Linked DNA regions of Homo sapiens. The protein of the gene in region 5 purifies or fractionates together with the protein of the main gene of each other region. This does not show direct contact. Each region holds a gene or a part of one and is shown on either strand. Other genes may lie near its edges. The genes, in order: VPS41, ANKRD22, NOL6, UPF3B, UTP20 and NOP58.

The links.
Region 1: the proteins of UTP20 (region 5) and VPS41 fractionate together in Homo sapiens (co-fractionation; one large-scale study listed by BioGRID). This does not show direct contact.
Region 2: the proteins of UTP20 (region 5) and ANKRD22 purify together in Homo sapiens (co-immunoprecipitation; one large-scale study listed by IntAct). This does not show direct contact.
Region 3: the proteins of UTP20 (region 5) and NOL6 fractionate together in Homo sapiens (co-fractionation; one large-scale study listed by BioGRID). This does not show direct contact.
Region 4: the proteins of UTP20 (region 5) and UPF3B fractionate together in Homo sapiens (co-fractionation; one large-scale study listed by BioGRID). This does not show direct contact.
Region 6: the proteins of UTP20 (region 5) and NOP58 fractionate together in Homo sapiens (co-fractionation; one large-scale study listed by BioGRID). This does not show direct contact.

What each region holds. Positions count from the first base shown.
Region 1 is NC_000007.14:38,755,175-38,760,401, forward strand, and holds part of VPS41 (vacuolar protein sorting-associated protein 41 homolog), read right to left. Parts: intron 3,308-5,227; coding exon 3,180-3,307; intron 1,809-3,179; coding exon 1,664-1,808; intron 1-1,663. UniProt on the Homo sapiens protein: Plays a role in vesicle-mediated protein trafficking to lysosomal compartments including the endocytic membrane transport and autophagic pathways. Acts as a component of the HOPS endosomal tethering complex.
Region 2 is NC_000010.11:88,823,092-88,828,318, forward strand, and holds part of ANKRD22 (ankyrin repeat domain-containing protein 22), read right to left. Parts: intron 3,025-5,227; coding exon 2,947-3,024; intron 288-2,946; coding exon 189-287; intron 1-188.
Region 3 is NC_000009.12:33,463,216-33,468,442, forward strand, and holds part of NOL6 (nucleolar protein 6), read right to left. Parts: intron 5,208-5,227; coding exon 5,106-5,207; intron 4,931-5,105; coding exon 4,815-4,930; intron 4,721-4,814; exon of another isoform or gene 4,654-4,720; coding exon 4,476-4,653; intron 4,302-4,475; coding exon 4,179-4,301; intron 4,048-4,178; coding exon 3,899-4,047; intron 3,773-3,898; coding exon 3,697-3,772; intron 3,495-3,696; coding exon 3,354-3,494; intron 3,211-3,353; coding exon 3,093-3,210; intron 3,011-3,092; coding exon 2,856-3,010; intron 2,683-2,855; coding exon 2,519-2,682; intron 2,145-2,518; coding exon 1,992-2,144; intron 1,762-1,991; coding exon 1,664-1,761; intron 947-1,663; coding exon 822-946; intron 706-821; coding exon 616-705; intron 227-615; coding exon 32-226; intron 1-31. UniProt on the Homo sapiens protein: Part of the small subunit (SSU) processome, first precursor of the small eukaryotic ribosomal subunit.
Region 4 is NC_000023.11:119,845,529-119,850,755, reverse strand, and holds part of UPF3B (regulator of nonsense transcripts 3B), read left to right. Parts: intron 1-5,227. UniProt on the Homo sapiens protein: Involved in nonsense-mediated decay (NMD) of mRNAs containing premature stop codons by associating with the nuclear exon junction complex (EJC) and serving as link between the EJC core and NMD machinery.
Region 5 is NC_000012.12:101,281,887-101,287,113, reverse strand, and holds part of UTP20 (small subunit processome component 20 homolog), read right to left. Parts: intron 1,545-5,227; coding exon 1,478-1,544; intron 1,366-1,477; coding exon 1,233-1,365; intron 794-1,232; coding exon 605-793; intron 1-604. UniProt on the Homo sapiens protein: Part of the small subunit (SSU) processome, first precursor of the small eukaryotic ribosomal subunit.
Region 6 is NC_000002.12:202,288,606-202,293,832, reverse strand, and holds part of NOP58 (nucleolar protein 58), read right to left. Parts: intron 3,511-5,227; coding exon 3,376-3,510; intron 2,709-3,375; coding exon 2,563-2,708; intron 2,517-2,562; exon of another isoform or gene 2,405-2,516; intron 1,057-2,404; coding exon 930-1,056; intron 783-929; exon of another isoform or gene 699-782; intron 1-698. UniProt on the Homo sapiens protein: Required for the biogenesis of box C/D snoRNAs such as U3, U8 and U14 snoRNAs. Part of the small subunit (SSU) processome, first precursor of the small eukaryotic ribosomal subunit.

The DNA.
Region 1 (5,227 bases), on a different chromosome or scaffold from region 5:
ATAACTTCCCAAATACAAAACATCTTGACTGCCCATATCCTAGCCCCCCGCCCTCCGATGTCTCGGATACCTTCACACCTTCTCATGAGACTCTCAGTAGTTATGGAGAGCATCTCTTTACCAGTATATCAAGAAAATGAGCTTTTCTTCCAGCTACTTCAACCTCGACCTAGTCTCCCTATGAGACTCCACAGACAGAAGGAGCTGGTTTTATGAGGAGAAGGGAATAAGAGTCAGAAAGAGAATGAGATACCTGAAGTTTCATAATGACATAAAGCTTTTGGACTTTCAGAATTTACTTTAGCCACTTTTATCATTCAGGAAACACAAACTAGACAGTTTATGTCAAGAGGAAGAGGGAAAGCAGCACACCAGACTGAGCCTCACACGGAACACCTGGGGGCCCTGTTCTAGACTCTGCTACGACCTAGCTGTCTGCTCCAAATGTTACTTTTGTTCTCTGAAATACGAGGGTGTTGGAGTAGATTATCCCTAAGGTCTCTTCTAACCAGAAGACTCTGATTCCTTACATCTGGATCACATTCTAGAATAGCAATTAGTTTCAGCTCATTCATCTTTTTTCCACAGGAACATATGCAAAACGAGCTCTGGAGAACAATGGAAGGGGGTGCATGAGGGGAGACTAGATATGAGGAAAATGTAATTAATTTTTACATAAGCATCTCATCCTCTGCCAGACAAGCAGAGCCTCTCTACCTGAACTTCCTTGGAGCTACGTAATTCTTCGTAAATCTGTAGTCCCTAAAGACTTGACTCAGTATTTTAAAAAGGGCTAAAGCATCTTTGAGAAAAAGACGTAGCTCTAGCTCCTATCTAAATTAAGTTTAAGTTGGTGGAGATTAATATAGCACACAATATCTCTAAATACAGTACAATATAATTGAAAAATGCATTAATCCTTTTGGAGCCTTTAGGGTTCTACTTTTAGGTTTATCTAAAATTTCAATTTTTTGAATAAGAACACTGTTTTATAAACCTCATTATTTCTGTCATGAGCACTTGTAATTAGATTTCTTTTACACACACACACACACACACACACACACACACACACAGCTTGCATCACTTTGCAAGCACCAATGTGAGCTGTGGCTGGGTCCACTCATTAGGGGGCGTAAATTTATTATTAGGTTATTCAAATTTGTCACACAATAAAATAACATTCCACATGTCCTGGACATGAGCATCACCTCAAACCAGGGGAAACCCCACATGCTGGATACGTGAACACCAAGAAATAAAATAGTAATAAGTCGGTCAAGATGGAAGTTCACTTAATTTTAAAATTCTGGAAAACAGGTTAGGAGGGATAAATGAGTCAAAGTATATACGTGGTTTGTTTCTATAAATTATATGAATTGTTTTAGCAAGAAATTACTTTATATGCGCACACACACAACTTTAAAAGTTCTCTATCAACTTTGAATTGCTTTCACAGAATAACTACATTATGAAAAGGATTCCTGAATGCCAAACAACTAGAATAACAACATCTAGCGAGGGTCAGAGTGTTCTAAAGATTGTCGGCATAAAGCCAAGTTATGTGATTCATTCACCAATCCAGCATTTGGATAGATATCTAAGTATTAAATATTTGGAATAGTAAAAATAATTGACAGTACTAAAATAAAAAGCACATTACCTCTGAATCAAAATCCATTAATAAAACAATTTTATCCTTGATAGAACTGAAAAGATTATGCTTGTGGATCAACTGAAAAACGTCTTTATGTCTTAATGTTAAGTATATTTCCAGAGCATTGCCATAGTTCTTGTCATAGGTGTACCTGGTAATACAAATTTTTTACATTAATATTCATCAACAGTTCTAATTAAAACACACACAGAGAGATCATGGTTCACAATATTAAAAATGGAAACACTCCTTTAGAGAGAAAAGTTAACTTTATTTCAAAAAATATTCCTATTTTTGAATAGGATTTAACTATACACGACCAATAAGTATTTCTTTCTCAGAACTTTGCCTCTCATGTTGCCAAAATTTAAGAAAATTCACAATATTCAAGTAATAAAAATGGTCTTTATTGGGGGTCTCAGTCTCAAAAGTTTTACAAACATCCATACAGCAAAGAAACTAGGATCCAGGATGAAGTTCTCATTTTAGTAACAGAAACATCCGTTCCAATTCTTACAAGCAGTATTCAGCTGACAAATGGCTAATATTCCAAAAGCTGATTTTAAGGGGGCTGTGTCTAACTGAAATGTGTTTTTCCATTGAAACAATGTTTTTCACATTAAGTCCCTAAGTCAGCTCTTGAGAGCTCACTGAACTGAAGCTGTACTGTTGGTCCATTACGAACGTGCTGCAGACTCTAAGGGGTATCTAACAGGACAACGTTTCCAAGAGAAAATGATTAGCATTTCAACTTAGAATGCCATAAACACAACCTCCTCTTGTGGAAAATCCAACACGTCCAGAGTTCTAGGTCATTTTGGTATACCTTTTTTGGTTTTGGGCAAAAGAAGAAAAAACAAGGGAGAGGAGTGGCCTGAGGTGATGGGGGCACTGAGGAGAGGTGGATGCAGGGATGGTCGTCTTGGCTAGACCTGCAGTATACTTCTTGTTTCCCTAGATCGAAGTACTTGAGAGCATATCTTATCTATCTCTGTATCATAAGCGTCTCGCACAAAGCCTGCATCACTGAATGTGCCCAAGAAATATGAAAAATATTAACCAAGCTGCCATTTTCTGAGCCCTGACTCAGGGTCAGGGAGTCCTCTATTATGACATCTCTTTTAAAGTTTAAAATTTTCCCATAAGGAATTGACATTTGAGAGATTAAATTAACTGACTTGAAGACCCTAGAAGAGCAGAATCCAGAGCCTTGCTCATTGGGAAACTGTTATGCTTGAGTGATCTAAAACTTGGCACCCTTTTGTTTCCTAACCACTGCCTCTCCCAAGCGCTGTGCGTTAGGGGTTCTCTTCTCTGGGAAACAGATTACATTGCAATTGTACAGTTTCACACATGTCCTTATCGCCTACTCATTTGAGGTTTATGAGAGGTTTTTACTAAGAAGGAATGTAGGAAAATGGTATAAAATACATCTTCTCCACTTGGAGTTTGCCAAATCTAAAGTATGAAAAACTTTTCAACACAGACTGATATGGAAAAAGAAACACTTAAGTATACTCACAATTCTGCCAGGGTTTTAAGTAAAGTCTTGTTCTGACTATCTTTCTTCAAATGATCCCGAACTGCTTGAACTATGACTGAATTATTATACAGATCTCCAGGCCATTCTCGGATCAATGTGGCAAAACCCTAACCAAAGGTGAAAAACAGAAAAAGAACACTCATTCAACAGAATAATAGTTGTGATATTGTGAAATATACATTTGGTCCTCCTTCTGTTTCCTGGCATATAACTCTCAAAATCCTTAGAATCTCTAAAATGATGTGTCTTCTTGTATGCTAATGAGCTGACTGGTGGCTAGCAGCCCCTAGGTAACTTAAGGATGGGGTTGGGCACAGGATAGACTGAGACAGGATTAAAGGGTTGGAACTTTTCAGCCCTACCCCCACCCCTGCCCCACAACCTCCAAGGAGGGGAGAGGGGCTGAAGGTTACACCGATCACCAATGGCCCAGTGTTTAAATCAATCATGTCTAAGTAATGAAGCTTTCATTAAAACCCAAAAGGAGTGGCTTTGGAGGGCTCCCCAAGAGCTGAACACCTGGAGGTTCCTGGAGGGTGGTGCACCCAAAGAGGACCTGGAAGCTCCATGCCTCTTCCCACATACCTTGCCCTCTGCATCTAATCCATTTGGCTGTTCATCTGTATCCTTTGCAATATTCTTTATAATAAACCAGTAAATGTAAGTAAAGTGTTCCCCTGAGTTCTATGAGCTGCTCTAGCAAATGAGTCAAATCTAAGGAGGTGGTAGTGGGAATTCCAGTTTATAGTTGACCAGTCGGAAGTACAGGTGACAGCCTATAACTTGTGATTGGTATGTCTGAAGTGGGGGCAGTCTTGTGGGCCTGAGCCCTCAGCCTGCAGGAACTGATGCTATCTTCATGTAGACAGTGTCAGAATGAACTGAATTAGAGGACATCCAGCTGGTGTCCACTGCAGAACTAATTGCTTTCTTGGTGTGTAGCGGAAAAACCCAGATATTTGGTCACAGAAGTGTTGTGTTGTGAGAGTATAGCATGAGAAACTGAGTTTGGTTTCTCCTAAATTCTCAAAACAAACCAAACAATTTAAACCATCCCTAAAAGTATTCACTTTTAGTCACATAACAGACCAAACAATTATATGATTAAAAGTTTGTTCAATAAATATTTCATCAATTTTCAGACTATGGGTCTGGGTGTGGTGAAGAGTTGCAGGGAATATTATTGTACAATAAATCTCCATTTAGCATTCCTGGGAGGCAGGTCGTGCCATCTACTTCTGTCCTTAGTTTTACGAAATGTACAACTAAGAAAGCTATCTTGTTCCTTCTATAAAGTGCATGGACAAGAGTTTAGGTTGGACTTGCCCCATCCCCATTCTGGACTAACTGTAACATTTGGATGACAGCTTTAACAGCTTACAGATATTACCCAAGTCAGCTACTTTCCCCACCACCAAGAGTCCTCTAATGCACTTAGGCCTGGGCTGCTGGGTGCAACTGGTTATGCAGTTGTGCACTGTATAGCCAGCACAACTGACCGTGGCAGTCTGCTTGGGACAGGGCTGCTCCCACAGTGAAACTGTCCAGCATTCTATATCTTTAACAAGTCACCATCTTGGTCCTCCTTCCACTTTGGCTTCTAATGCCAGTTTTATGTTGGAATTTGAGACTTTGGCTCAAGTCTTATCCCCTGGCTCTTATCCTGGCTATCTCTAGATCTCAAATTTTGTGGTTCCCCGATTTGATCCTGTTTCCGTCCCACAGCTGATTCTGGGCCAGTATCTTGCTCAGTCTCTACTCCCTGATTCCCGACTTTAGACTTCATGTTTTATAACTCAAAGTATGACAGAGCAGTTTACTTACTGATCCTTGACAATGTTTAGAACAAAAACATGTTCATAAGACAGTAAAGAGAATTAAAAACATCCACGTTATTAAATGTGAAAGGAAAATAAATTCTCAGGACCTCCAATTCACTAAGCCAAAGGGAAAGTTAAGGGAACTGAGTCATGCAAAAATTGCCTTCCTTTTGTTCCCAAACAGAGAGCTGTCATTTCACATGCTTC
Region 2 (5,227 bases), on a different chromosome or scaffold from region 5:
TCTCTGTGTTGGCAAGGGCTTTAAAAGGCAATCAGTCCTAATAGTAATAGGATAACTTCATTCCTTAATGAGGATGATTAATTTTACTGTTGTTTACGTCAGAGGCAAATAATTTACTTCAACATAAGGCCTAGATTAGAAGATGCTGCTGCTAGAGGAACCTCAGACCACGGTCCACCCTCCCTTACCTTATTCTTTATTGTGGGGTCTGCACGGGCTTCCAAGAGCAGAGGGATAAGAGACTGGTTTTTCATTTCACAGGCATAATGTAATGCGGTACAGCCATACTGAAACACAAAGGGCCAAAACTTCAGCTCATAAGTCGGGCCCTCCACAGACCATAGCATGTGGCTTCATTGGCAAATCCTTTTCACACTTTGTAGTATACAACTAAGCAGAAAAATAGTCTGCAAACCATTGATAGACAACTATTTCTAGTACTTAAAAAATTTTTCGCCGGGCGCGGTGGCTCACGCCTGTAATCCCAGCACTTTGGGAGGCCGAGGCGGGCGGATCACGAGGTCAGAGGATCGAGACCGTCCTGGCTAACACGGTGAAACCCTGTCTCTACTAAAAGATACAAAAAATTAGCCGGGCGCGGTGGCGGGTGCCTGTAGTCCCAGCTACTCCGGAGGCTGAGGCAGGAGAATGGCTCGAACCCGGGAGGCGGAGCTTGCAGTGAGCCGAGATTGCGCCACTGCGCTCCAGCCTGGGCGACAGAGCGAGACTCCGTCTCAAAAAAAAAAAAAAAAAAATTTCTTCTCTGTCTCAATGTATATGTATGTTAGTGTCATATAAGCCATCAATCTCTGCCTTTTTGTTTTCCATTTTCTGTTCTAAAGAATGCAACTTAAAAAAGCTGATGCTGAATTGTGCCAAAGTTTCTTTGTCGCATGCTATATGCCTCGGTGATCATCACCTTGATCATGTCACCATCTTTCCCTTAAAGAGTCTCCACATGGCCCTTTACATAAACATTATCCTCTATGGTTTTGGTGATGATTCCTACTGAAGAAGTCGGGTGCTCTTGCTGCAGGACACCTGCAAGATCAGTGCAGTTCTACAGAGACATTTCCCAAACGTGATTTGTTATAGCTTATATTATGTGTTATAAGCTAGTGCATCTACTCTGTTGGTACTAATTTAAAACACTACAGGTCAAAAAAATTATAGCTAGGGCATTAGTGTCCAAAATTTGGCCTTTGGAAAAGTAGCCAAGCAACCATGGTGCTGGTGAGTGAAGAAATAGTACCTTTGGCTATCAAGACAGGTTTAGCTCTGGATCCCATTCCCTAGAAACACCTCTAAAATTATAGGAGATCATGTTGCAATTATTTATTTTTATTAAGTGGTGGCATGACAAATGGAAGTTCTGGCTCTGAATTTTGTCATGTGAAATAGAGTCTAATTATCCAAAAATACAAAACACTGTCTTACCTAGAAAGTAGATTTTAATACTCAGATAGTTTTTGAAAAAATTTTGGTATTAGAAGTGGTGTCTGTGTGTGTACCTGCATGTGTCTCAAACTCCTGAGTTCAAGGGATCCTCCCATCTCAGCCTTCCAAGTAGCTGGGACTACAGGCTAGTGTCACTGTGCCTAGCTGAAGGAATGCAATATCTCTATCTAGAGAGAGAAATACACATAAATTGCTGAGAAAATATCCTAGAGAAATTTTGGTCACAGGCAGGAATATTAAATCTATTGAATTTAAATGAAAAGACCAAGAAAAACCTTCAACAAACTTTTAACTTCATCTTTAATAATCTCTTACTTAATATATTTCAAAGCTATCTAAAGAAATGGTAATGCACAGTAACTGTCAATACAAATTTATCCAAAAGTTCTATTTGAAATAAAAGGGAATATAAATTTCATAAAGTTATTTTCTTTTGCTCTCTCTCTCTCTCTCTCTCTCTCTCACACACACACACACACACACACACACACACAACTGCCTGCATTTAAACATGATACCAGCATAGGCAAAACCGAAATGATGTAAATAATTGATAGAAACAGGAATGGGGCCATGGTCTCTATCATAAAACAATGGTAATACACACAGATGTGCACACACGTAAAATATGTTAGGCATCACAAATAGAATGTTAGTATTTTGGAATCAAATTTCCACTTGCCTACTTTTTCAATAAGGAACTGGGAATCCAAAATTTTATTCAATCACCATAAGCAAAACACCATAGAAATAAACTTTTGTCTTTCTGTGATCATTGAGAAAGAAAGATGAGTGCAAGAGCACAGAGGTGAAAGTGAAAACAACACCTTATGCTCATAAACAGGAAGAAGTGAGCGGATGCTGCTACTGTTGTTATCACTGCTCTTACCATCAGTGGGATTTTTCTTTGACCTTTGTCTTATTTATCTGTAGTTTGCACACGGGGCCTCTCATCAGTGGGTTGGGATTTTGGCTGCAGTGGCAGCTGTTGCCATTCAATGAGCACTTACTACATTCTGAGCATGTGCTAAGTGCTTTACATGAACAAGCCCAATGAGATAAGTATTATCCATATCCCCATTTTACCGATGAGGACACTGAAAGTAAAATAAGTTTACAACTTGCTCAAACTCATAGAAGTAAAAAGTGGCAAGCCCAGAGTTTACTCATGGGCATTCTCACTCCAGCTTCTTAACTATTATGGCTGGTATTTTGTTATCGGAGCCTTAGTTTTCCTTAACGTCTCAACAACATTAAAGCCAATTATTTTAAAAATGCTTTATAATCAATAGAGGTATTATTCCCATGAGTTCAGCAGAATATAAATAACCTCAAGGTTGCCTGTCAGTGGGAAAAAAAAGGAGAAAATAAAAGAAAACTAAATGTAAAATTGTCTAGGAAAATAAAGCAACTGTACAGATGACAAATACGCTACCTACAAATACCATTTTGAATATTTTTTCAAAATGGCTAAAAGTATAAACTTACACAATCTGTAGCATTAACTTCGACGCCAGCATCAAGTAGCATTCGTACAAGAGCCTCATTCTGCTTTGTCTTTGATACCTATTACAAATGGTAATTATAAGAAAGGCTTATTTACAAATAGTTTCTCCAATTTATGCCTGAGACTATTTAATCAATAGGCTTCATTTTAATCCCAACACTCCTATGCATGCATGCACCCTTCCTAAAATTTCCCCCAGCTTCTCACTCACTCTAATATCAATTAATTAAAGCCAGGTTCTCAGACTGTGGTCCTGAAGTAGCGGCACTGACACCTAAGAACCTTAGAAATGTACTTCTCAGGTCCCACCCCAAACCTACCTAATTCCACTGAGGATGGGGCCTAGTACCTGTCTTTCCCTTCCTGGCTCAAAGCTGTGCAATTACTTCCCATTGCTCTGAGGACAAAAGTAAACTCTTCAGCATGACCTACAAAGCCCCGTATGTTTTGGCTCCACGTATGGCCCTGCCCTGGCCTCTCTCTCACTCTGCGCCTCCTGGCTCACTCTGTTCTACTTACATTGGCCTTTGTTAATCTTTCATTCTCAGAGAATCATTGCACAGGAAGTTCCTTCTGCCTAGAAGCCTCCTCCCTCTCTTCTTTGCCTGGCATATTCACCTTTCATTCATCAGCCCAAGTCCCTCTTTCTCTAAGAAGCTTTCCCTGACCCACCTGACCAGGTGAAATCCCTCTTTTTTAGCTATCCTAACACCAGTCGCCTTTCTGTATCACCCGCTTTATGGTAATTTTACATGTGTTTGTGCCATTTGATTAATGACTCTCCCCACCACCCTCTAACTCTCATGGGGTAAAAAACTATGCCTATTTTGTTCATCATTGTGTCCCTAACAGCTAGCACAGCGTCTGGCACATAGTAGGTCCATAATAAACATACGTTAAAGAATTGAACAAATTAATGAAATGAACTAGGACTCCTCAGAAATTCACTTTTCCTTCCCAGTCTCCTGAGCTTCTGACCACAAGCCTGTTGGAGTCTTCCCCAACTTCCAGTCTCCTGAAGAGGCAAAGCTCTCCCTGCTCAGCTGGGTATAGCCCTGGAGTTCAACCCTGTCATCACCTGGGAAGCTCCATCCAGTTCTCTCTCCTTAGGCTTCCCTCTTGTGTCACCTCCTAAACTGCCTTTCTCTGCCTACTTTTCTCTGAAATAACCCAATGCTTTCCTCTCTCCTCCCCTATCATTTCCTCTCATGTCACTTATTTGTTAATTCATCACAAATTTACAACTTTAGGCCCCATTAATAAATTGCACGTGCATGAAACTAGAGTTGAGCTATTCATTACGATTACTATTTTTGCCCAGTCCTCCAGCCTCTAAACATTGAACCATCTTAGAAAGCAGAGTTGTGTGTCAATAAATTCTGAATGAGCCTTCTAATCACAGTTGTAATTTTTACCTTTAGAATCTCTAAAAATGTTTGTAAATAAATAACAGATTCTCCCTGCCCCCAAAATACATGTATTTAAATGCTATGTGCTAAATACATAATGAATTTTTAAAGAATTCTTCGAGGATATGAGCAGATTATATTTTTATTAGTGAATTAAAGTTCTTTTCTCTCTCCTATAAATCCAAATATAAAAATCAACATTGTCATGTTTAATTATAGTTCCTCAAATTCTGTGGCATTTAAATACCCAATGAAATAATAACATTTTTGACGGGCAGACTTGTTCTGCGGCTGATGTTAACAGGTGTAACCAATATTCACAGTTTATGAGCTACAACAAGGAGGGAGCTTGGTCATTTAATTAAAGTAAATTATGCATCTCTTGAGTCATGTCTGAGAAGTGGAACTGGGCACAAAGGAAACTAGATGGATAAAAGTGAGTAAGTCAGTGCAGATCTGTTACCCTATTGGGAAAAAAAACCAAAAACCATCTCAAGCTTCATCTTCTACTCCTCATATGACTGCATCTCTATACCAACTACATCTTTCTTTATTCAAGAAAATTGCTGTCTGCCAAGATTCATCCAAGCATGAAGAAATTCATCAAGGTGAAAATGGGCTTAAATTCTCAACAAGTATCTTCTGTGTGTGTCAGCTTCTGGATGCAAACTTTTAGGATCTGTTTTTCAACACACCACCAGAGGAGTACTTAAAAATCAGTAAGTCAGAAAGATAAATCCAAAAACACAAACTCCTCTTTTAAAAAAAGGAGAAAAAAATATTAGAAGGGGTGTTTTTTAATATTCAGAATTTTTTTGCTCCCTTCAGAAAAGTCTTAGTTAAGGTTAAATTA
Region 3 (5,227 bases), on a different chromosome or scaffold from region 5:
TCCCCAGGTCATTCAGCTGTTTAGGACCAACCCTGAGCTGCGTCAGATAGAGCTGAGGAGGATCATAGCCCAGCACGGGCATCAGGGATGAGGGCCCCGGCTGGCTGAGCAGGCCCCGGCAGAAGGAGGCAGCTGGCGAGTCCACAGCCTGGCGGTGCCGCGGGATATGGCGAGGAGACAGGCGAATCAGCACGTCGTAAATGTCCAAGGGCGGCCGGAACACTGTCTAAGGAAGGGGAGAAGGAGGGGTCAGCAGGACCCCCTTGACTGAGGAACTGGACCACAAACCTCTCCACACGCCCACCTTGGTTTCCTCCTTCCATCTGACCACCCTCTATGGGCCCACCTGCCCATTTGAAGACTGAAGCACCAAGACCCACAGAGCAAACAGCTGTTGCATAGCCCGGCAGAAGGAGCACAGGCTAGAAACAGGAGACCCAGATGGAACCCAGGTTCCCCAGGCTCTGCCACCCCAGGCACCACAGCAGCTTCAACACCTCCTCTGTTCAGTCTCACCAAACAAGGGGACCGGGTCTCCTGTGAGATCCCTGAACGCTGAACTTCCAAAGACAGAATCCCCAGAGGCCCTGGAGTCACTGCTGGTCAGAAGCTTACCCTGATGTCCCCAGGTCCCCGGGGATCCATGAGCTGCTTCTCTAACATGGGCAGGGCTTCAGCTGCCAGGACCACAAGCTGCTGCAGGATCTGCGGGGTACAGACACATCAGACTGGAACTGAAGTGGGTCTCTCCCAGGTCAGGCTGGGCCTGCTTTTTCCTTGGGAAGAAAACCACACATTAGGGGGCAGGTATGGGGTTGAACCTGGGCTGAGGGTCCATCCTGTGTCCACACAGAGTTTTTGCGGTCTTGGGGGGTAACAATGACCATGACGGGGAGCTGTGCCCGAGCTGCCAGGAAGCCACTGCGGATCTCCACCTGCTCCTCCACTAGAGACAAGAATGGGTCCTGGGTCAGCCTGCTCCTCCCTGTAAGACACCCTCTACTCCCCCAGGTCCTCCTACGGTGCCCCCAACGGCTGCTCATCACAGGTATTTTTCAACACTCCCCCCCACCAAGTGGCAAAGGTGACGAAAGGGACATCGCATTTGCCTCAACTGGGTGGGGCATTAATCGCCCAACCTCAGCCCAGAGGCAAAATTTTCCACTGCTTGGCACCCCCAGTCTGGTTTCCGGGCCTGCACAAGCTGAGTCTTGCCCCTGGCCCCCTCCCACCATGGGCTTCCACACACCTGGGGAATTAGGAACCTGACACCCTGCTCTCTGCAGAGACCGAGTGCCTCACGTTACAACCAGAAATCACCACTCCCACCCCCACCAAGAGGTCTGAGTATCTGTGCTACACTTCCTAGCTCCGTGCCCTAATACTTCTTACGTGGTATTCAGGATCCCCCTTCTATTCTCCTCTTCCTTCCACAGCCCCCCGCCAGGTAGCTTGCTTACCACCCTATCATTCTGTCTCTGACAATTAAGAGCAAACCATGTCATAATGGTCAGGCTGTTCACCTGGACCTCTTCTTCATGTCAGGCTTAGACATCTGGGGCTGGGGAGGCACAGAGAAAACCTAACACTGCCAGGGAAACCCTTGCCTGCAATCCATAAAGAGCTGTTCTTCCAGCAGTCTGACCCCTGTTCTACCACTTACCAGTGAGCTCATTATTGAGGTTGACAAAGAGGGGGTTGTTCTTCCAATCAAACGTTGATACCAAGAAAAGGAATCGAAGGAAGCCAACCTGGGGGGAACTAAAGGGCTGGAGTAAGCAAAGAATCCAGGGCCCAGCCACATATCCCCAGGCTTCTCTCAGGCTATGGAGCTCAGACCCCCTGGTGTGGATTGGCAGGGCAGGGCATCTTAGAACCCCTTCTGCCACTTGCTCAACCACCCATTCCCATGTAGACTTAGGGTGCAGCACGAAGGATGATGGCTGGCCGCAAGGAAACTTCTCAGCTGGGGAAAAAGTGGAGGGAATCACCTCGGAGGGGTGAAGGGCTCAGGGTGCAGGAAAAGGGCAGCGGCCACCAGATCCAGGCTCTCATCAGCGAAACCCTCACCAAGAAGCTGGGCACGCACCCACCGCTTGGCCAGCCGTGCCACACCAGAGAAGGCTGGGTGCTGCTGCTGCAGTCTGCAGAGAGAAGGGGAGTGTCAGCGAGACTCAGGGCCCCACTGCCACTGTTCATCCAGCCCCTACCCAAGGCCAGCCTCAGTGATAATAGGTTACATATGTAATCTCATATTCTCTTAAGAAATGCACCAAGAAGTTGACCCTAGTGTTATTTCCATTTTACAGATGACAAATATAGGGACCAAGGAGGAAAATCTGACCATAGGGTCACAGTCAGTAAGTGGCAGAGCCAGGATTCCAGAACCTGCCTGACTCCAGAACTCATACCCCTAACTATGATACCATCTGGCCCCTGGAGAGACAGGTGGCTAGGTGAGGAGAATGGGGGCAGGAGGGGGCCTACAGACAGGAAGAAGCTGTGTCAGTGGCCTTACCCGTGCAGGGCACTGGTGAGCAGTGGCAACTGCCTTGTGTCTCTCTCAAGGCGGAGGGAGGCAGCTGTGTCCCTCAGCGAGATCATCCCCTCTGGGCTCTGCACCTCCTTCAGGATCTGGGGCTCCCGCTGATAGGCCACGCGAATCCGAAACACAAATCCATCCTGTTGGAAGAAGGTATGGAAAGAGAAGGATGTGTCAGCCCAGAACCCCGGGAGTACTCTGTGGCCTACAGCCCTATTACCCAGCGTGGTACCCACAGGGGTGTCTTCTTCCACGCCCTGACATCCCTGGTGCCCCCCTTCCCTGGGGACATATCTGCCTGCACCAGCCTAACCTTAAGGACATCCGTGTGCGTGGCAGTGGCACGGCACTGCAGACCATGCTGTTGTGTCAACAGCTCTGCCAGGCGCAGCTGGAAGGCAGCTCGGACCCGCTGCACGGCCTCAGCGTCCTGTGGCCACTGGCCACTGCCCTCCAGGTGACAAACCACTGAGGAAGAAGAGTCAGAGGTCTCATACTGTGGCCTGGAGCTGGAACTATCCCTCCCACTCCCTCCCAAGGGCCCTCTTACCGGTCATGGGCTCCACGTAGGCCGGACAGGGCTTATCGAGCCGGGGCAGCAGTGAGGACCGCTCCCGCAGAGTCTCATAGAAGGAGAAGGCTGGACGGACTGGAGTTGGTGGGAACACCTGTGGAAGAAGAGGGGCTGAGGAATGGGCCTAGGACTGGGAGGGAGTGCCCAGAGTCAGGAGTTGGAAGTGGGGAATACTGGGTGACTGGAGCAGAGGTGGGGCCACTAAGCAGAAAGGTCACCTGCACCGTTGCACCTCACCTCTGTGTAGCGCAGCACTGGGTGAGCTCCCTGAACAGCAGACACGGTCAGTGGGAGACCCTCTAGCCCCCACAGTAGGCGACTGAGGTCGTCGTAGCAACGTACCGCCGCTACCAGGGCCTCCTCACCTGTGCTGGAGGTCTGAGAGGGAGAAGACGGTCAGGAGGCTGGACCCTACAGAAGGCCAGCTTCACCTGGATTCTGCCCCAGCTCAGGCTGCAGCAGAGCCAGCACCGCCGCCTGCTGGACATGCCAGGAAGTGCAAGCTGGCCAAGGCTGAGAGGACTCTCTCCCCGCAGATTGATTACTCTACAATCACTAGCCTTGACCCCAAGACCCTTACCTCTTTCAGGCCTTGGATAAGTGCATCCAGGGGGCCCCCCACATAGTGGACACAGGTTTCTGGGATGTCAGCATGGCTGAAAAAGAGGCAGAGACACAGTGAGAAAATTTGGGGCTATGTTCTCGCTCAACTGCCTGGGCCAGACCCCTGAAAAGGCTCCCCAGCCCACACTGCCTTCTGGAATCCAGATGCCAACACTCACAGTGCCAAGAGGTGGGTGACCACCTGGTGGGGAATAAGGCGCTTCTGGGACATAGAGGCTGCCTCCCAGACCACAGCTTCCCGAATGGCTCCGTCCTGGAAACGCCGAAGCTCCGAGCGGGATCCCCAGAACTGGCGGAATTTAGCAGCCTGAGGAGGCAAGGGTGGTAGTAGAGCTGGGGAAGGAAGGGCTCTGTGGACCCTCCCCAACAAGCTTCAGTCCAGGTGCCATGAGGACGAGCCACCCCATTCCTTCCAGTGTACATGCTGGGGTCCCCCACCTCAGGCTGGTCTGCCTCTGGACCCAGCTCAAGGACGCTGGTCAGTCCCTCAGGCCGGAGAAGGAGTCCCAGGGTCAGGGTCCCAGAGTCTTTGTGCTTTGGTGGATCTTGGCTGATGTCCCACTGCAGGATTTCAAAAGGCTGAGCTCAGTCCTCCAATCCTCCAGCCTGGCCTAGAAACCTACTTTCTAGCTAGCTAGAAACGCCTAGCTGGAGGAATGGTGTGTCCTTTGTGTCTCTTGGGACCCTGGATCCAGCCCAACTCAGACCCAAACTCCCCAACCTACACCACCTCACCTCTGGGACTGGGGGTCGAGAGTGAGCCAGCAGGTTCAGCCGAGCCCCCAGGCCCTGCTCCAGGAGGGTGGTCAGGGGGCCCAAAGCAGCTGAGACATAGTCCCCACCATTGTCCTGCAGCTCTGGCCAGAGCTTCAGCCGGTGGCACGCTGCCTGCAGGCGACTCAGTGGACGGAGACTGGAGGGGTACAAAGGGCCAAAGAGGGGTAATCAGGTTGCTGGCCCCTAGTACCACCTCCTCCCTGAATGATCTGAGCACCTGTCTGAAGACCTTTGCCCCACCACTGTAGCCCCGAAGAGACAGGACCCGCCAACATACCCTGTCACCCCTAAACTCACTGCAGGACATGGTCAAAAGCCCGGATCATGGGTTTGGGAGTCATCAACAGCAGGTGGAACCCGTCGTCAGCTCTGCTGTCCAGCAACATCATAGACAGCCGTGCCTCATGCTGTACCTGGAGCCACAGAAGGGACCATCCCTGTGCCCTTCATTGATCCAAGGGCTTAGACCAGGAGACATGCCCTAAACTTAACTCTTTGAAGAGGAGTTTCTGGGGTTCTGGTACTTGCAAAAGGGACAGAGTCTGGGCTGAGACATCAGGGGAACACAGATTGGGGGCCCATTGGTACCTGGTGGTAAGTAGAGGCAGTGACATCAGCACAGAGGTTGAGATGGCCTGAGGAATCCAGGAAGACAACGGAGAAGGCCTGGTGGAAGTCAGCCAGGGCCGGCTTGGGGGGTGTAGAGAGAA
Region 4 (5,227 bases), on a different chromosome or scaffold from region 5:
AATCGAAAAAAAGAAACTTGATACATCTCTTACTTTATATCCAGAAAGGTCCAGTCTATAGGGAAGACACATTTCTACTTTAACACTCTATTATCTGCTACCTACATTTAGCCAGAGAATATCTAAGCTGCCATTTGCCACTTTTCTTTTTGGTTTGCAATTATAGGTAAATAGTGTGTCTTCTTGTTTTGTTTTGTTTTTTTCAATATTACTTCAAAGTTGGTAAAAATTAAATTTTTGTCAGGGACTATGCCAGTAAAAATTGAAGGATTGCCACTGTTTGTCCAACTTTTATTAATCTCCCCAAGCCAGCTATTTTTCCACTCCAACTATTTTATTCCAGTAGATATTTAACTAGATTCTAGTTACTTAGCCTGGAAATCTGAGTTGTGTTTAATTTTTTCCTTTTTTAAAAATCTCTTACATGTAAGTTATGAATCTTGTCAATTTATTGTTTATCTTTTGAGATAGGGTCTCCACCCAGGCTGGAGTGCTGTGGCGCAATCAGAGCTCACTGCAGCCTGGAATTCCTGGACTCAAGCAATCCTCCCACCTCAGCCTCCTGAGTAGCTGGGACTACAGATGTATGTCACCATGCCTGGCTAATTTTCTTTAAATTTTTTATAGAGATGGGGTCTCACTACGTTGCCCAGGCTGGTCTTGAACTCCTGGGCTCAAGTGATTTCCCCCCCCCCACCTCAGCCTCCCAAAGTGCTGGGATTACAGGTGCGAGCCACCATACCCAGCTCAACACCACTTATTAAAGAGACTATCCTTTCCTCATTGTGTTTTTTGTTTGTTTGTTTGTTTTGTTTTGTTTTTAAATCTTAGAGACAAGGTCTGCTTATGTTGCCCAGGCTGGATTTTATTGTTTTTTTTTAATATCTTGTTCACCTAGCCTTAAACAGTCACACTTTATGTCCTCATCACTTAATGCCTAGACAACCACTGTCTCTAAACTTACAGGATTTTCCATTTTTTTCATTCTTGTATAATTCAGTCTATTATATTGCCATGAAATTAATCTTTTTGAAAATAATGATTTAAATTAACAGTTGGGGGAAAAAGTCCAAACTCCTTAGCCTGGTAGTCAGGGTCCTCCATATTCTGGCCTCACTTCTGTTTCTTCAGCCTGTCTTCCACAATTTCCCTCTGTTTCAGTCTGGTTTATCTATTCCTTCTCAAATATATCACAGTTTTGTTTTTTGGTTTTTATTTTTGTTTTTTTTCTTTTTCTTCTCTCTCTCTCTCTTTTTTTTTTTGAGACAGAGTCTTAACTCTGTCGCCCAGGCTGGAGTACAGTGGCACAATCTTGGCTCATTACAACCTCCGCCTCCTGGGTTCAAGCAATTCTCGTTCCTCAGCCTGCCGACTTAGCTGGGATTACAGGTGTGTGCCGCCACGCCCAGCTAATTTTTGTAATTTTAGGAGATGGGGTTTCACCATGTTGGCCAGGCTGGTCTCAAACTCCTGGCCTCAAGCAATCCACCCGCCTCAGCCTCCCAAAGTGCTGGGATTACAGGCGTGAGCCACCATGCCTGGCCTAATATATCACAGTTTTGAAGCTAATCTGATTCTCTACTCACTGGGATTCCCAACATAATTTTTCCTCCATGACTGCTTTGCAGTGCCTTCTGGTCAATTCTGTTTATTTTTATTTTTCTGCTTATGTCTACATGCCAATGATTTAAGGATAGGATACCTTGTTTTTGACATTCTGTGACAGGGTGCTTGTGAATTTTTTTCCCATTAGTCACTTGGGGTTTTTGTATTGAAATATAACTCACCTATAATAAAATTCATCCTCTTAAAGCGTACAATTCAGTGGTTTCTGGTATATTCACAAGGTAGTACAACCATCAGTACTAATTCCAGAATGTTTTCATCCCTCCAAAAAGAAACCCATATCTATTAGTAGTTACCTCCCATTCTCTCCCTCCAGCCCCTGGCAACCACTAATCTACTTTATGTATCTATGATTTCCCTCCATTTCATATAAATGTAATCATACAATATGTGGTCTTTTCTGACTGGCTTCTTTTACCTAGCACAATGTTTTCAAGGTCCATCCATGTTGTAACATATAACATATATCATTACCTCATTCCTTTTGCATTTTTAAAAATTGTAAAAATACACGTAACATAAAATTTACCATCTTAACCATTTTAAGTGTACAGTTCAGTAGCATTAAGGTATATTCACACTGTTGTGCAACAATCTTGGGAACTTTTTCATCTTGAAAAACTGAAACTCTTTACCCATTAAACAACTCCTTATTTCCCTTCCTCCAGCCCCTGGCAACCACCATTATACCTTGTGTCTGTATGAGTTTCACTACTGTAGGTACCACATATAGGTGGAAACATACAGTGTCTGTCTGGCTTATTTCATTTAGCATAATATCTTCAAGGTGTATCCATGTCGTAGCATGTGTCAGAATTTTCATCTTTTTTTTTTTTTTTTTTTTTTTTGAGATGGAGTCTCACTTTGTTGCCCAGGCTGGAATGCAGTGGCGCGATCTCAGCTCACTGCAACCTCCGCTTCCTGGGTTCAAGCAATTCTCCAGCCTCAGCCTCCCAAGTAGCTGGGATTACAGGTACCCACCACCACAGCTGGCTAATTTTTTTGTACTTTTGGTAAAGATGGGGTTTCACTGTGTTGGCCAGGCTAGTTTCAAACTCCTGACCTGAAGTGACATGCCTGCCTCAGCCTCCCAAAATGCTAGGAATTACAGGCATGAGCCACTGCCCCCAGCCTCATTTTTAAGACTAATATTCCAGTATATGTATATACCACATTTTGTGTATCCATTCATCTGTCAAGGGGTATTCGAGTTGCTTCCACTCTTGGCTATTGTGAACAATATTGTTATGAACACAGATGTGCACATATTCGAGTCCTTGTTCTCACTGCTTTTGGATATATACCGAGAAATGGAATTTCTGGAGTCATTTGGTAATTCTATTTTTATTTTATTATTTATTTATTTTGAGACAGAGTCTCTGTCACACAGGCTGGAGTGCAGTGGCATGATCTTGGCTCACTGCAACCTCCACCTCCCAGGTGCAAGCAATTCTCCTGCCTCAGCCTCCCAAGTATCTGGGATTACAGACACCTGCCACCACACCCTGCTAATTTTTTATGTTTGTGGTAGAGACGGAGTTTCACCATGTTGGCCAGGCTGGTCTCAAACTCCTGACCTCAAGTGATGCGCCCACCTCGGCCTCTCAAAGTGCTGAGGTTACAGGTGTGAGCCACTGTGCCCCGCCGGTAGTTCTTTTTTGTTTTGTTTTGTTTTTTTGAGATGGAATTTCGCCCTCATTGCCCAGGCTGGAGTAAGTACAATGGCGCGATCTTCCCTCATTGCAACCTCCACCTCCTGGGTTCAAGCAATTCTCCTGCCTCAGCCTCCTGAGTAGCTGGGATTACAGGTGCCCACCACCACACCCAGCTAATTTTTGTATTTTTAGTAGAGATGGGGTTTTACCATGTTAGTCAGGCTGGCCCAATAATTCTATTTTTAATGTTTTATGGAACTGCCATACTGTTTTCCATGCAGCTGCATCATTTTACATTCCCACCAATACATGAGTGTTCCAGTTTCTCCACATCTTTGCCAACACTTGTTATTTTCTGCTTTTTGATAGTAGTCCTCCTAATAGGCGTGAGATGATACCTCATTGTGGTTTTGATTTGCATTTCCCTAATGACTAGTAATGTGGAACATATTTCCATATGCTTGTTAGCCATTTGTATATTATCTTTGAAGAAATGTCTATTCAAGTCTTTTGACCATTTTTTAAATTGGGTTATTTGGTTTTTTGTTGTTGAGTTATAGGAGTTCTTTATATATTCTCGATATTACCCCTTATCAGATAATATAATTTGCAAATATTTCTCCCATTCCATGGGTTGCCTTTTCACTCTGTTGATTGTGTCTTTTGATGCATAGAAGTTTCTAATTTTGACGTAGTCCAATTTATCTATTTTTTACTTTTTTTAAATAAGAGATATACTTTATATTTTTGTTTTATTGTGGTAAGAACACTTAACATGAGATCTACCCTCTGTATTTTTACTTTTGTTGCCTGTGCTTTTGGTGTCCTGGTGTATTTTTTTTTAAGTGTTAACAGATTTTTCCCCAGCTTTATTGAGCTATAATTGACAAATAAAATAATATATATTTAAATTTTACTATGTAATAATTGTTTTTTCTTTTTTCTTTTTCTTTTTTTTTTTTTTTTTTTACCAGGCTCGAGTGCAGTGGCACAATCTCAGCTTACTGCAACCTCCGCCTCCCAGGTTCAAGTGATTCTCCTGCCTCAGTCTCCCAAGTAGCTGGGATTACAGGCGTGCACTATCACGCCTGGCTAATTTTTGTATTTTTATTTATTTTTATTTTTATGTATTTATTTTTTTGAGACGGAGTCTTACTCTGTCGCCCAGGCTGGAGTGCAGTGGCATGATCTCGGCTCACTGCAATCTCTGCCTCCTGGGTTCAAGTGATTCTCATGCCTCAGCCTCCAGAGTAGCTGGGATTGCAGGCACGTGCCACCACGCCCAGCTAATTTTTGTATTTTTAGTAGAGACAGTGTTTCACCATGTTGGCCAGGCAGGTCTCAAACTTCTGACCTCAGGTGATCCTCTCATCTCGGCCTCCCAAAATGCTGGGATTATAGGCATAAGCCACGGTGCCCAGCCCAACGTGATAATTTTATATATGTATACATTATGAAATGTATACATTATGAAATGTATACATATTGTATACATATATACATTATGAAATGTATACATAATGTATACATATATACATTATGAAATATATACAATCAAGTTAACACATTCATCACCTCACATAACACATCACCTCAAATAGTTACACTTTTAAAAAATAACAGCTTTATTGAGATATAATTCACATGCCTGAAATAGTCACCCTTTTAAAGTATACAGTTCAGTGAATTTTAGTATATTCATAGGCTTATGAGCCTATCACCACAATCTAAATTTAGAACATGTTCATCACCCCTAAGAGAAACCCCACCCATTAGTTGTCACTCCTCATTCTTCTCACCACTTCTACCCCAAACTCCAGGCAGCTACTACTCTACGTTCTGTCTCTATAGATTTGCCTATTTTGGAGATTTCTAACATTTTAAAATGAAAAATAGTTTGTAGGGTCTTTTTCACATTAAAATATCACATTTTATAAGTTGAATTT
Region 5 (5,227 bases):
ACAACCGGAAGACCAAGTGGAAAATCCCACCAAACCCCAGACTTAAACAGATAATAAGACAATTTATGCTTACTTTAAACAAAAGGTTACTACAAAATTCATTCTCTTTCCTTGTCCACATTTACTCACAAATACTGAGTGTCTCTTTCACCTTAGTAAGTATTAGTGGCTGGGGAAATGTCAGTGTTTAAAACAGGGCTCTTAACCTGTCTTAAACCTCCCTTATACCAGGTGTAGAGAGGACAGCAATACATTATAACCAAACAATTCTGGTAAAAGTTGTGTGACATAGGTGGTTAAAAAATGCCAAGAGGATAGAGAGTACAAAATTTTATTAATACTTCTGGCAAAGGTGCCTGTTTGTGGAGGCTGTAGGGACCGAGTCAGGCCTTCTTGGGTGGGTATACTTCCAGTAGCTGGAGAGGAGAGATGGTCATGGCAACTCAGACTGGCAGACTAGATTGTGGACCACTTTGGCTGGAGAATCAACTTTGTACATGGAAACAATTAGGCACTGAGCTGGCAAAGTGGTTTGGAGTCATAAAGAAGCCAGGGAAAAAGAAGCAGGCAATTAAAAAACATACTAGAGAGAGAAAGGGGTTACCTGTATATACTGGACATGTCCTTCACCATCAGTCTCCACAGGTACTTATAAAGATATGATAACGAGGTGAAAGCCCATTCTAACAACTCTGTGTCCTGAGTCTCCAGGATCGAGGTGATAGTCAAAAAAAACTCTGGAAAGTGTGGGTAGAAATCCATCTGCAGATCTCGTGCCAACTGTACAACCAAACTGGATTAAAAAAAGAAGCAACTGATCATGTGGATTTTTTTAAAAGGCTACAAATCTACTTAACGATAGTAGGTGGCCTATGATCATAGGATTAATTAAATAAAAATACTTCTAAATCAAGTCTGAAAAATTATAAAATTCTTTAAATCTTAAGATCTCAGCAAAGAAATCAGGCAAGAAGTTACATTCCATCATAAGTTGTAGCCAACTGTTCCTATAGTGTCAAAGAAAAATGAGATTATCTTAGTATATAACAAATGCGAAATTATACCCCAAGATTCCACTTTATGGTAATGCACTTATTCCTAACAGAAAAGGAAAATCCTCCTTGTTTCTAAATTATGAGCACCTGATCTGCGGTATATGTAGCTTTGAAACACAATCTTTCTTAAAATTCAGGCAAATATAGTTGTGAGCTTTCTCTCAAGATGCTACTTACTCCAAAAGGGGTTGATAGGCAAAACTGTTCTTAACTTGCAGGTGAGTCTTCAAACTCTGAACTATCTCGTTTTGGTGATACACCAACTGATTGAATGATTGGCATTTGTCAATAACTTCTTTGTAAAATTTTCCTGAGTGGGGGAAAAAAAAATATGTTCTTTTCTATCACACCACTATTCAGCTGTATGGAACATATAAAGTGCAAACTATGGGTGAATAAAATAGAAACGAAATAGAAAATACCGAAGTGTTCTGTGAGGTTTAATTCTCTCCATTTCAGCAGACCCTCAAAAAAGTAGGTTTCAACCTCCTGTCAAGATTAAAGCAGTCCATTAATCAAATAACTCTAAGAAAGCAATGATCAAGGTAAATAGAATAATGATATATTAATATCTTAAGACAATGATACTGAAGAGTTTAAGAACTCCTTTTAGTTTTTTAAAACAGGCCATTAAGTAACACACTAAAAAGCAATCAGAAGTTATCAATAGGCCACTTATAAAATGCTGTTTTGTTGATTTGGTTTCAGCAAATAATTTTCTGGGGCCTATATATATTGTCCACTAAGGGAAAATTATTTTCTGTGTTTTTTTATAATTTTAGGCAAAGAATAAGGTGTTGGTTCTTTACAGTTCCTTCATTCTGCTTTTAGAAATATGAATTACTACAACCTTATAAAGAAGTAATATGGCATTCCTGTTAAAATTCAAAATAGTTACGCTCTTTGACCCAGGTAGTTCTTATAAAGTTTGCAAGCCTTTAAGTAAAAGATGTTTATTCAGCTTAACTACAGTGTGGGGAAACATTAAACAGGCTAAAATATCCGACAATAGGAAAATGGTTGGAATAGCCCATGGTCTATATATACTAAGGTATATTATGTGGCTACTAAAAAGAGCTATATCTCTATTGAACTAGAACTACACTGAAGATATGCCCCCAAAATGATAAAAGTTATGCAGTGAGAGGGTATGGCAGGATTCAATTTTCCTTAAAAAACAAAAATAAAAAACCCTCTATAAATGTTTGTACATACGAACATGAGAGGACAGTATGGAAGAATACAACTATACTGAACTGTCAGTGTTGGCTTCCTTGGGAATTAGGGGTGGGAGGAGTGAGATAATGGGCTTTTCGTAAGTTTACCACTATGTTACTTAACTTGTTAACATGGTATCAATTACTTTGTACTTTGAAAGGTAAAGCCAATAAATTATCATACATGTATGACATGTATGTATACATGTACGTATGTGTGTATATAGATGTATAAATAAATGCATACCCCCCCAAAACAATCATTCTACCAAAAAGATACATGCCTTCGTATGTTTATCTCTACACTATCCACAATAGCAAAGACATTGAATTGTCCCAGGTGTCCATCAACAGTAGATTGGATAAAGAAAATATAGTACATATACACCATGGAATATTATATGCCTTAAAAAAGAATGAAATCGTGTCCTTTGCAGCAACATGGATACAGCTGGAGTCCATAATACTAAGCAAATTAACATAGGAACAGAAAACCAAAAACTGCATGTTCTGACTTATAAGTGGGAGCTAAATATTGAGTACACATAGACATAAATATAAGAACAATGAACACTGTGGATTACTAGAGGGTGGAGGAAGTGGGGATGGGTTAAAAAAAACTACCTGTGGGGTACTATGCTCACTACCTGGGTGACAGGATCCATACTCCAAACCTCAGCATCACACAATATTCCCATGTAACAAACCTGCACAGGTACCCCCTGTATCTAAAATCAAAGTTGAAATAAAAATAAAAATAAATACAAATATGTGTTTATAGAGAGAGAGAAAAAAGAGAGAATAAACACATAAGCACACATGCAAACAGCATGCCAAATCTACAATATCAAAAAAAAAAATCCTTAAACTGTTCTTTGGAAATCTTTAAAATCAATAGTTAGGCAGAATAGATACTATGTAACCACAAATATTAAAAACTAAAAATTAAAAAAAAAGGCAGAAAAGAAAGAGAATCCCATTAAATTTTGTTTTAGGCTGGGGACAATGGCTCATGCCTGTAATCCCAACAGTGGGAGGCTGAGGCAGGAAGAGCATTTGAGCCCAGGAGTTTGAGACTAGCCTAGGCAACAACACGAGATCCTATCTCTATTTTTCAAAAGTAAAAATATTAAAATTTTTTTGTTGTTGTTTTCATGTCCTTTAAGGCATTTTCATGTCCTTTAAGGCAGAAAGAAAATATGCAACACAGTTTAAAACTTAAATGCAGAACGCATTTCTAGCCTAGCACAGACCTGGCGTATGTCAGCTATGTGTGAGAGACCATGTCACGTCCTTTTGCAAGGTAACTCTGGAGCTCCTTTCACCAAGAGACGGAGTCTGTTTCCTCACCCTTTGAATCTGGCCTGGCCTCCTGACTTGCTTTGACTAATAACATGCGATGAAAGTGACTCTCATGACCAAAGCAAAACTTTATGAGGTCTTGACAGCTTCTGCCTTCACTCTATTGAAAAGATTCTGCCACCATGAAAAGAAGCCTAGTCTAGCTTATTGGGGAATAAGAGGCCATGAAAAGAACCAAGATCAACAAGCCACAGCCAACTGCCAGACACGTGACAGAGGCCATTCTGGACCATCCAGTCCAGGATTCTAATTTCAGGCTGTCTTCTCTGCCTTCTTAACACTGCCTCTTGATACCTTCAACCTCTCCTGTGGCTTAAATTATTAATCATATTCTAAATGCCAAATCTGTAATTTCACCTCTGAAGTCACCTATACTCCAGATCCATATATACAAACATCTTTTGGACACTATCATTTGGATGGCCAAAGGTATTTCAAATTCAAGCCCCAAATGGAACTAATTATCTTATCTTTACAACCTTGTGCTCCTTTACCTATAAATATATCTTGATGAGTAACATCCTCAACCATTCAGCCTTAACCTCATTATCTTCCTTGCTGCAAACCCAGTAGGTCACAAGTCCTATCCATTCATTCTACTTCCTCAACATCTCTGGAATCTTTCTCTTCTCTCTATCTTGATTGCTGCTACCATAATCATTTCTTACTTAGATAACAGTCAAATCCTCACAACTGGACAACTGAGATTGGATCTCCAAGTTAAAGGCATGTTACACAGGACCTTAAAAGGCTAGCAGAGGAATCATGACATGATGAAGAACTGCAGTCCTGCTCTTTTCTCCACACTAAAGCCAGAGAGATTGAAAATTTAAACCTGATCATGTCATTCATTCCCCTGCTTACAGTCCTAGAACTCTAAGTCCCTACAGCTTCAGGATAAAACCCCAACTTAGCTTCACATATGAAGTCCTTTATGATCCTTGCCTATTTCTCCAGCTTTATCTCACCAGTTGCCCCCTTGCCCCATCCCAGTCACCATGAATACAAAAAAAAAACACCCTATACACACCTATAACCACACTGGACTGCTTTGCAGTTTCTTGAATGTGACATGCATTCTCTAGCTTCTGTTCCTTTATATAGGCTTCTCCCTCAGCCTGGAACAGGCTTTCCTGTCCTCTTTACCATGCTAAAACCTATATAAACAAAATTCAGGTGTCACCTCGTCTAGATCACCGTTTTTTTGACACCCCTAAAGAATGTAGGTTAGGTTCCCTTTACTATGAGTTCTCAAAGCACAATGTGCTCACCTAGACGACATCATTTAACACATTGAATTTACACAGTGGAGATAATGCATTCAAAGACCCAGCGAGTGGAGTCTGATTATAGTAAAGAAGAATATTACGAACTGAGATTGGATCGCCAAGGTATAGGCATGTTACGTACGACCTTAAAATGCTAGGAGGAATAACGACATGATGCAGAAAAAGACTTCTGCATAAAAGGATGACAAGGCCGGGCGTGGTGGCTCACACCTGTAATCCCAGCACTTTCGGAGGCCAAGGCGAGCAGATCACGAGGTCAGGAGATTGAGACCATCCTGGCCAACATGTCAAAACCCCGTCTCTA
Region 6 (5,227 bases), on a different chromosome or scaffold from region 5:
GAGGCTGAGGTGCGCAGATCACCTGAGGTCAGGAGTTTGAGACCAGCCTGGCCAACATGGCAAAAACCCTGTCTCAACTAAAAATATAAAAATTAGCCAGGCATGGTGGCAGCACATGCCTGTAATCCCAGCAACTTGGGAGCCTGAGGCAGGAGAATTGCTTGAACCTGGGAGGCAGAGGTTGCAGTGAGCCACTGCACTCCAGCCAGTGCAACAGAGTGAAACTCTGTCTCAAACAAAAAAAAAGGAGTTATGCCATTTTAAACACTCTGATGCAGATGATATAATCTTTTTTGATGAATTATAACAATGTCTCCAAGTAACATAAAAATGATGAATCAGTACTTCATTGTATTTGTAGGTATTCAATTACATAGCATTTTAATTATAGCATATCATCCTTATAATACTGCCATACACATATACAAAGTTTTATTATAAATCAGTTGTTGAAAATATTTTTGAAAGTCAAATATATTACATCCTCACACTCAATAGTGAAACTAAGGTAATCAATCAAGGGCACAAATCCTCTACAGTGATTTCTTTTTTTTTTCTTTCTCTACAGTGATTTCTTAAAACTGTATTCAAATCTAGGTCTAGTGAGTTTTTATTATGAAAATGTTAACTGTTTTATCCTCCTGCATTCATCCGATTGTTCTAATTAACCCTAACAAACTTCTAACAATGGACCACAAGTGTCTCAGAAGAGGTAGTGACTAAAGATGCCTTCATTATCCAAAAGGAAATCAGGCAAACAAATAGAAATCATCATTGAACACTTGGCCCTTAGTGATCTCCCACATATCATCTACTTTTGTGTTATCAGCTAAAATTTCTTTAACAGCTGTAGTTTAAAGATGTAAACAAAATCCTAACCAGAAAATACTTCAAACACTCATATTTACAAATTACATTAAAACCATCACCTGCATGAGCAATAAGCCGTGCTCCAACTAATTCCCCAACCATGACTGTAACATTGGGTGCAATGGCCATCATTCGATTTTGTAGATATTCATAGAGCTGGGTTCGATATTCAGAGATTTCAATCACCTAGTATAAGGAATAAAGTTAAGTCACAAATATCATATGAGTAAAAACAGTAAAAATTCCTGTCTAAAACACTGGAGCCCTCAATTATGAAAGAGCAGCTACACAACCCTGGGTACTGGGTACATCACCTATGCCTAACATCAGTTTTCTTTTTTTTTTTTCCCAGGCTGGAGCGCAGTGGCGCAATCTCAGCTCACAGCAATCTCCGCCTCCCGGGCTCAAGTGATTCTCCTGCCTCAGCCTCTGGAGTAGCTGGGACTACAGGGGCCCGCCACCACGCCCAGCTAATTTTTTGTATTTTTAGTAGAGACAGGGTTTCACCATGTTGGCCAGTATGGTCTCTATCTCTTGACCTCATGATCCTAACATCAGTTTTCTATAAGATGGCTGTAATGAGGACTTCGTTATATAATGTATGTAAACTACTTGGTCCACTGCCTGAAAATCTTAGTCAGCGTAACTGTATTTTTAAAAGATTCTAAGCAGCCCAGGCACAGTGACTCACACCTGTAATTCCAGCACTTTGGGAGGTCGAGGCAGGTGGATCATGAGGTCAGGAGTTCAAGACCATCCTGGCCAACATGGTGAAACCCCGTCTCTATGAAAAATACAAAAATTAGCTGGGCATGGTGGCACGTGCTTGTAATCCCAGCTACTCGGGAGGCTGAGGCAGGAGAACCGCTTGAACTGGGACCTGGGAGGCAGAGGTAGCAGTGAGCCTGAGAACGTGCCACTGCACTCCAGCCTGGGCTACAGGGTGAGACTCTGTCTCAAAAAAAAAAAAAAAAAAAAAAAAAAAAAAAAAAAAGATTCTGAGCAATAAACATTTGTATCATGCTCTTTTTAATTCCTATATGGCTACCTTCAAATCTGAAAGAAAAAAAAATCACAAGATATAGACATAAGACTCAGAATTAAAAGGCTCAATCCATAATTGTCTGCCATCCTTTTTTTTTTTTTTTTTTTTTTTGAGATGGAGTTTTGCTCTTGTTGCCCAGGCTGGATGCAATGGTGCCATCTCGGCTCACTGCAACCTCCCCCTCCCTGGTTCAAGCGATTCTCCTGTCTCAGCCTCCCGAGTAGCTGGGATTACAGGTGTACGCCACCACGCGCAGCTAATTTTTGCATTTTTAGTAGAGATGGGGGTTTCATCATATTGGTCAGGCTGGTCTCGAACTCCTGACCTCAGGTCAATCCCTGACTCGGCCTTCCAAAGTGCGGGGATTACAGGCGTGAGCCAACGCGCCTGGCCTTCTCTGCCATCTTAATTGATTTTTGGTTAATTCATTATTCAGACGATGATTGTAAATTACTTCCTTTTAATATGTATTTCCCCCTTTTAAGTATACAAATCATGATGGCATCAGATGAGGTAGTGACTGAACACCCTCATATTTATGTTATCAGGTGAACAACAATAAGTGTAAAAATCATCATTGCCATCAGAAAAATTAGTACTATAGAGCTGGTAACACCACAACTAGATTCTCCAGGAGTAAAATTTACCTGGGTGCAAAGATGCAGAATATTGCAAATATCTTCTTCTGAAACCTCTGTTCCCATTGATATCTCTGCAGCTGCTTTCACTTCTGCTTCAACTTCTTCTGGCAGCAACTCAGAAAGCTTGGCAGAGGCATAGTTCTTCCTATCGCCTATGGAATGTTTGCAGAGGATGAGGGAGAATCACTCTTCAACAAATTATATAAAATCCAGCAAATAGTCAAAAGAAAAAGTAGAAAGCCAATGAAAAGGATGCCTAAACAAAACAAAAAAAATGAAGAAGTTTGACCTAGTATAACAGTTTTCCTCATTTAAGGGTTTAAGTTTAGACATTAAATGTCTCCCCACCACCTTCTTCCAAAAAATAATCAGAGTAAAAAGAGGACAAAATATGCCACAACACTTATTACAGAATATAAGTGGCAAAAATTTAAAAAAGACAGGACTAATAATAATGTCACAGACAATTTTATACTGAAGCTGGGGCCAGTAATTCGTAAGGCAAGTAAACCATCAATCAATCAAGTTCCTCTGTACGTTAACGACAATCAACAATCAAGTTCCTCTGTATATTAACAGTACAGACGGCAATACTGCTATTTAGCATTAGGTACTAATATCATGTTATAGGCCATCAAAATCTAAGTTAAAATTCATTTTGTTTCTTAAATTTAAGACACTAAACTGCTACACTTCCCAAATACACAGAAATTGCAAAAACCCTGGGAATCTTGCTTAACAAAATGCTATACGTCATGTTTTAGGATGCAATCAAATTCATTTACTTTCAATGCCTTAAAGGATGAACAAATTACTCACCAACTTTCTGTAAACACTTGCAGTATGTTAAATTATCTGAAATAATTTTTCCTAATTCAGGGAAATGCCAGCCATACCATTCTCTACATCGCATAATGTAGTTGTTTAGTTCTTTATCCAAGTCATCTAACAAGGCTGTAGTAGATTAAAAACAAACAAACAAAACTTAAAGGGATTTATTGTGGTAAAACATACACAACATAAAATTTAACACTTCAGGCTGGGCACGGTGGCTCATGTCTGTAATCCCAGCAGACAGGCATATCACGAAGTCAGAAGTTCAAGACCAGCCTGGCCAACATGGTGAAACCCCATCTCTATTAAAAATACAAAAATTAGCCAGGCATGGTGGTGCACACCTGTAGTCCCAGCTACTCTGGAGGGCTGAGGCAGAAGAATCACTTGAACACAGGAGGTGGAGGTTGTAGTGAGCCGAGATCGTGCTACTGCATTCCAGCCTGGGTGACAGAGCAAGATTCCGTCGCAAAAAATTTAAAAAAAAAAGAATAAAAAATAACACTTCAACCATTTTCAAGTGTACTATTCAGTAGCATTAAGTATTCTTATGATGTTATGCAACCATTACCAGGATCTATTGCCAGAGCAATTTTATCATCAGAAACTGAAAAATTCTGTACCCATTAAACAGTAACTCATTCCCACCTTCCCCCCAACCTCTAGTTATCTTTATACTTCTGTCTCTGAGTTCACCTATTTTAGGTACTTCATATAAGCAGAATCATGCAGTATTTTGTGACTATTTCACTTAGCATATTTTCAAGGTTTATCATGTTGAAATATGTATCAGAATTTCATTTCTTTTTAAGGCTGACTAACATTCCACTGTGTGAAGTGGCTGGGTGTACGTTACCCAAAATGCTTGGGACCAGAAGTATTTCAGAGTATTTGCAAACACGTATGAGGCTGAGGATGGAACTCGAAGTCTAAATAGGAAATGCATCTACATTTCACATATACCTTATATACAAAACCTTGAAGGTAATTTTACACAATATTTTAAATAATTTTGTGCATAAAACAAAGTTTTGACGTGTGGTCAGGTGTGGAGTTTTCCACTTGTGGATTTGTGTGGTACCACAAAAAGTTTTAGATTTCAGAGCATTTTGAATTTCAGATTAGGGACATTCAAGCTGCATCCACAATGCAGTTTATCCATTCATCTGTTAAAAGGTATCTGGGTTGTTTCCACTGTTTGGTTTTGTAAATAACACTGTTATGAACATAGGTGTACAAGCAACTCAGTTCTGTTTTTAATTCTTTTGGGTATAAATCTAGGAAAGGAATCGCTGGTTGAGCGCTTTTTTTTTTCTTTTTTTGGAGACAGAGTCTAACTCCATCACCCAGGATGGAGTGCAGTGGTGCGATCTCAGCTCACTGCAACCTCTGCTTCCTGGGTTCAAGTGATTCTCCTTCCTCAGCCTCCTAAGTGGCTGGGACTATAGGCACACGCCACCTCGACTGGCTACTTTTTTGTATTTTTAGTAAAGACAGGGTTTCGCCATGTTAGCCAGGCTGCTCTCAAACTCCCGAGCTCAGGCAATTCACCCGCCTTGGCCTCCCAATGTGCTAGGATTACAGGTGTGAGCCACTGCGCCCAGCCGAATACTTTGTTTTTTTTTTTGAGACGGAGTGTTGCTCATGTTGTCCAAGCTAGAGTGAAATGGTGCGATCTCGGCCCACTGCAACCTCCGCCTCTCAGGTTCAAGTGATTCTCCTGCCTCAGCCTCCTGAATAGCTGAGATTACAGGCGCCTACCATCATGCTCAGATAATTTTTTTATTTTTTACTAAAGATCGGGTTTCACCATGTTGGCCTGATCTCGAACTCCTGA